Linked DNA regions of Homo sapiens: region 2 is linked to region 1. Evidence: fine-mapped expression QTL. A gene starts in region 1. The other region holds a variant in brackets. All regions are shown on one strand. Distances are from middle to middle.

Region 1 (2,913 bases):
CTGTGCTAGGCACTGAGATAGACAACCTAGAAGATAAAACTCCCAGTGCCTGTCTTGAAGTGTATAGTGAGACAAACACGGAAACAATTAACAACAACAAAACCACCCTACAATTAAAGTGAAGTATGAAGGCATGGGGGAAAGGGTATCTAACCCATGCCTGGGGGAGACAATTCCTGGAGGATGTATTGCTTGAGCTAATGGATGGAGTGTGGATCAAATACAGTTATAATGACTCTATATACTATGTATTAGGGTTATGTTCTGCCCCATTGCAGTATGCAGTACATGATGTGATTTTAGGTGGTCCATGGATGGACATTTAAACTTTTTGTAGTTAATGTGTACTAGAATAAAAATAAGGAGCACAACAAACTTGATTTCACAGAGTATTATGGTTTAGGATAAAGCCAAAAATTTTTAATGAGTTGAAATTGGCTTTAAATAAAAATATTGAATGAATAATAATACCTAGGTGCAGATTGGCAAAGATTGTGTAGGTGGTGTACAGATTACCCAAGTTTCAGAAATAGTATTATAGCAGAAGGACTACCTAAAATAAAATTCCTGCCTTCCAGGAATTCAACAGTTTGTTAAGGAACACAGACCCATAAGCAGGGGTGGTAAATGCTACACTAAATTTGGAAACCAAGTACAGGAGGAAGACAGGAAAACAGTGAGGAGCAGAGTGCGGGAGAGGCTACCAGCTACAAGACCAGTTGGAAGGCTATTGCTGTAGTCCAGGGGAGAGGTTACAAGAGCCTGAATTAGGGTGTGGCTATAGAAATGGAAGGAATACAAGTAATGTTAACAGGCCAATTGCAACCATACTGTGAAAACCTTACTGGTTGCAAGCAGTACGAAGGTGAAACTTATCCAACCAAGTCAAGGGCAGTGTTGCACACACACACACACACACACACAAAGTAGTAGGACAGCTGAATTAATCAAGTATAATTGAAAGCATACTTTTATTTAGCTTCGGTTATGAGAGTGTTTTAGTGCGAAATATTTAGATATTTGCCCCCATTTTCCCCACTTAACTCAGAAGCTGGAGAAATGTTAACACATATTGTATAACGCTTTCTATGTTCTAGGTTTTTTCTGAGAGCTTCACGTTTGTTGACTCCTCTATCCTCATTAACCTTTATTTTATAGATGAGGAAACTCAAACAGAAGGTTAGATAACTTGCCCAGGGTAAAGCAGCTGATAAATCAAGTAGCTAGGAAGAAACCCAAGCATTCTGGCTATTCTTAACACTACACCAGAATAAACGGGGCCGGCACACAACGCTAAGGCAAGTCACGTATCTGTATCGGATCGTGAAACAATCACTCTTACGGTTGGCAAAGGTTCTGGGATCGCAATTTCCCCACCTATAAAATGGAGATAACGACGCCGGGAGTTTGGTGCAGAGAGAGAGAATGAATATGAAAGTGAACTTCAAACTATGTATGTGGCTCCACGTACTACTTTTTCCAAATATGAATACTGGAATCCATAAACTGCAATTTATCAGTCCGTAAAACTCGTAGCGTCAGGGCGAGACTCCGCCTCTGGGGCCCCGCCCACCGCGAGCGGCAGGTGGGGCCGGCAGATCTTCTTTGCGCATGCGGAAACCGCTGCCCGCTTCCACCTCTAACCCAGGCTCAGAGTAGCTGCTGTTTCTGAGAGAACGATTCGTAGGACAGCCCCTGACGCCATTCCCTTTTGCCCTTCTTTCTGCGGGCCTTTCCGGTACTTGAGCGGTGTCCAGAGCGTGGCCAGTTCTCGTCTATCTGGCTGCCTTTAGGGAGCGGTGCCTAGCGTTGGCCAATAGTTGGCTGTCGAAAGTGCCGGCCCCCGCGCCGGCGCCTGCAGCAGCCGGGTGGGAAGGCTCAAGATGGCGTGCTTGTTGGAGACCCCAATCCGCATGAGCGTCCTTTCGGTGAGTGACCCGCCGCGGCCGCCCGCCCGCCCTCCAGGAAGCCTCATCCCGGTCTCCACCATTCCCCCAAGCGTGGTGTGCCTCCTGGGCACCACCCCCTGGGGTGGACCCCGGCTCAGTCTCGGGCCAGGGAGTGAGCGAGGGTGGAGAGGCGGGATAGACGGGCAGAGGGGACCGCGGCCGAGCCAAAGACGTTTCCAACTCCGGGAGCTCCCGCCGGTGCGGGTTCCCAGGATGGCGTCTGGCAGGCGGGGTGGCTGGGCTTATAGACAACTGGCTGGGCGGCGCGGCTTGGACTTTGCCAAGCGTTTCACTGAGCCTTCCTTTTAGCGATGCCGCTTCCCGGGGGCCGAACGCTCTGCCTTGTGAAGCGCCGGGCTTGCAGCCGGCCTGAGAACGAGCGCCCACTCAGCTCTCCCGGGCTTTGGCAAGAAGAGGTGCAGGCTCCTTGGCCCCCATTTCCTCAGAGCTGCCAGGCCAAGTCTGTGCGGCTTCTATCGCGTCCCAGCACCTGGGCACCGGCTGAAGCAGTTTGCTTTTTGGCAATGGTGATTCGTATCAGCTGCAACTCTTCCTAGTGTGTGTGGTTTTTTAAGCCCCTTTCCTCCGCTCTGCTCAGAGGTCGCGGCTCTGAGTCAGAGGAACTCTATGTTCCCTGTGCCTGGTATTCCGTTTTTCTTTAAGGGGAGTCAAACATTGAAGGGGGGAAAAGGGGGTGAGATTTATTTCCCCATTGTTGAAAGAAGGGAACGTATTGACATGCCAGGAAGTAAAACCTGTTTTTTTTTTTTTTAAAAAAAGTTTTTTTAAAGAAAAAGACGACTTTCACCTTTCACTATGTTGCTCTTGAACCAGGACCAGGAATGAAAGTTACTGGGAGATAACTTCGAAGGATTTTGCAACAAATTCGAGCTGTCCGACTCTGAGAATGGTCAGTTTACCAATGGTTCATTTGCTATTGTTGGAAACAAGCAGGCAAATACTG
Region 2 (2,913 bases), 120 kb after region 1:
TGCCTCACAACCCTTCCTCCCTCTTCAAGTAACAGTACTCTGGTTTTCCTTTGGGGAACAGCCCTTACCCATTTCATTTGGTCCAAGTTTGACTGACAACCATGGGATGCCTATTCCCCAACACACACACACACCCCTGACCTGAGAGGAAGGGTTCTGACCCAAGCTAAGCCAAGAAGACTCCCAAGCAGGTGGGTTATCAGCAGAAGCAAATGGAAGGTAGTTAGATCTGAGTTATCCAATGGCAGTATCTAAAGTGATATGCTCGAGGCTTTGCTTCGAGATCCCTAGCTTCCTTTTGTCTCCAAGCCCTTCTCATTAAACTCTCCCTTCAATTCTGTGAGTTATGGACTTTCCTTCTAATAAATTCCTTAATTCATTTCTTAGAGAGAAAACCTTTTCTTTGCAACCAAAAAACTTTACCTGATACAGCCTATTGTCATTCTGAGAATAAATTCATGACCCACTTGCTGTTCCTATTTTGGTTCTTCATAATTTCTTCTGTCACAAACTGATATCAATCTATAAGCATAATGTTGGAGGAAGAGAAACGACAGTGTGTTGAACTTGTGGAAGTAGATGAGCTGACCTCTCCAGCTTTGTGTTGGTAGAAAAGTCGCACTTCTGCCTCTGTCATGGTTCTCTCTTCATTTGTTAGAATTTCAAACCCAGCTTCCTGAATCTGTAGAATATATATAAATATTCTAAAAGGGTAAATCAAGCCCAAATTCACATTGATTAATTAATTTAGTTGAAAGGTAAAAAATAAAGACAGGCAACATTAAAGGCTGTGGAGACACTGATCCCCACATTATCTGTCCCAATCAGATTTAACATTTTCATTTACTTGAATGGAACTTGAGCTACAACCCCTTAGAATTCATCTTTCTGCACTAAGATATCACTGCCCAGTGCCCCATCCCTGTTTATCCACAAAAGAGGACACAAGGACAGTGGTGCATGGTAAGTGTTGTCTCTCTTACCTTCATGATAATCTCATCAGTCTTTCCATGGGCCACTGCATCTGGTTTAATGATGGCCAAGGTACAGGTCCTCTCTGATGAAACTAAGCCAAAAAATGGTGCTGTCAGATGCTGATGTTTGAGGCTCCTGAGAGGCCATCCACAAAAAACAATGCA[A/G]CCTCTACACAAGGCTCCATTGCACCAAGTGCCAGGCACAGGCTTGGGCTCTCAGAGTTCCCTTCCCTGGCCTCTTAGTTTTGCCCCTGCAAACCTGGACTCTGGTGGATGCACCAGTCTGACTCCAGACCTGAGGCCAGACCTCAACCTCCATCTTGCTGCAAGGAACAGAGACTCAGAGACTGGCTCAATGAACCTGGGCAGGTGGCAGAGGAGGAACATGGGAGAAGGGATTGCTCAAAGACTGCTTGGGACCAGAAATCCAGAAACAACTGAATTGAGTTGGCCTGGGGAGTGGGAAGAAGAGGAGGTATAGGAGAAAGTGAGAGGGGGGCCTGGAGCATGGGCAATACAGGCCTGGCTGCCCTCACCCTCTCATGATTCCCAGCACTCTACCTGCTGTCTGCCACGTGCTCTCCTTTCACTCTACTGGCTCCTGTGCCTCTGATACTTTTTCCCTTTCCTGCCATGTGGCTAAAAATGGCTCCTCCAGGCCCTGAGTCTGCATGATGTTCCATGACTTCTCAGCTCCAGCACATACTACCAGATTGCAGTTTCAGTAGTCTGTCTCCGTTCAAGTTCTCCTGAGAGAAGCCAGATTGCCCCACTCATTGGTTTTAGCCAAGGTACCAGCCCTAGCTCACTGGCCAGTCTGCTGATTGACTGCCCTTGAATAAGCATCCACCAGTCCAATTAGCTATGACAATGAGGGAGGTGCCACAGGATCAGAGTCCACTGCTTAGTCCCACAGGAGCTGTAGGGAGGTCTGTGTCTAGTCCATGAGCCCATCTCCATTGTCCTCCTGCTTATATTATATAAACTTGTCTTGGATGAGTTATCTACACTCTCCACAGAATCATCATTCTCCCATCACCTATTTTGTTTCTCAGCTTTTACATTGGTTGTGTTGAAATGAAACAAGACAATATCTACATTTAACGAGGGCTTCTACTCTGAAAAATCTCAAAAACATGTACTGCAAATGTATAAATCATTTCAAGCAACAAATCTGTTATTTCTTTCTGACATTACTATTTCTAACGTGTTATGAATATTTAGATTTTAAGAGAGTTTTACAATAAATTCCATTATAAATTGATTAGTGAGATCACCTAGAGGTAGAGGAAGAAGAAAAGAGACCAAAGCAGGGGCCTGGGGTGCTCCAGGTTAAAAGGGCAGCACAAGAAAAGAAGCCAATGAAGGAGAAACTGAGGAGAGGCCAGAGACATAGAAGGAAAACAAGAAAAGTTGTGACATCTCAGAAACCGGAAGAGAAGGTTTTGAGAAGGAAGACATTGTGAACATCATCCCATTCTGCAGAAAAATCCCATAAGATATGAACTGGTAACTACCTGTTGGTGCCACCAATGAGCACCATTTCAGGGAGTAGTGAGCGCAGAGGCCAGATTGCTGCAGGTCGGGGCATGAATGGAAAGTGAAGGTGGCCTAGAGTGTGGACAAAGGAAGCTTGGCTGTGAATAAGAGGAAGGCTAAGGAAGGGTAAGGGCGGTATCTTAGATGGTTTTCTACGTGGGAGAGACTTGATTTGGGAGGAAATCATGGAGGAGGGAAGAAAGAGGAGATGATGCAACAGGGGAGCAACAAATGTCTCCTGCAGAATCACAATCACTGATTTTCTCTTCACCCTTGAAGTTTTGCTGTCCTAAACTGTGCCTTCTCCGTTGTTAGAATCCAACTCAAACAATTCTTATTCTCCACACATGTAAAAACAGCCTATTTCAAGCAATAATTTAAAAAATCTTCCTCCTCTTAT

Which allele goes with the higher level. Alleles are on the strand shown, and positions count from the first base shown. SD is a standard deviation of normalised expression in the study named.
As copies of A replace G in region 2, the expression in prefrontal cortex of the gene that starts at base 1,630 in region 1 goes up (small effect, 0.31 SD a copy in CommonMind).

The links. PIP is the estimated chance that this variant, and not a neighbour inherited with it, causes the effect.
Region 2: its variant is the best candidate, but not a certain one, in a credible set for the expression of ARMC8 in prefrontal cortex (CommonMind, PIP 0.73).

Annotation. Positions count from the first base shown.
Region 1 is chr3:138,185,672-138,188,584 of GRCh38, forward strand. ARMC8 (armadillo repeat containing 8) reads left to right here and starts at 1,630. Exons shown (of 22, transcript NM_001363941.2): 1 at 1,630-1,928. The coding sequence starts at 1,884.
Region 2 is chr3:138,305,415-138,308,327 of GRCh38, forward strand. NME9 (NME/NM23 family member 9) reads right to left here. Exons shown (of 11, transcript NM_001349018.2): 7 at 984-1,066; 8 at 590-682. Among named protein-coding and RNA genes, the nearest start is that of NME9, 23 kb to the right of the region's middle. The variant A/G (reference allele first, on the strand shown) is at 1,140.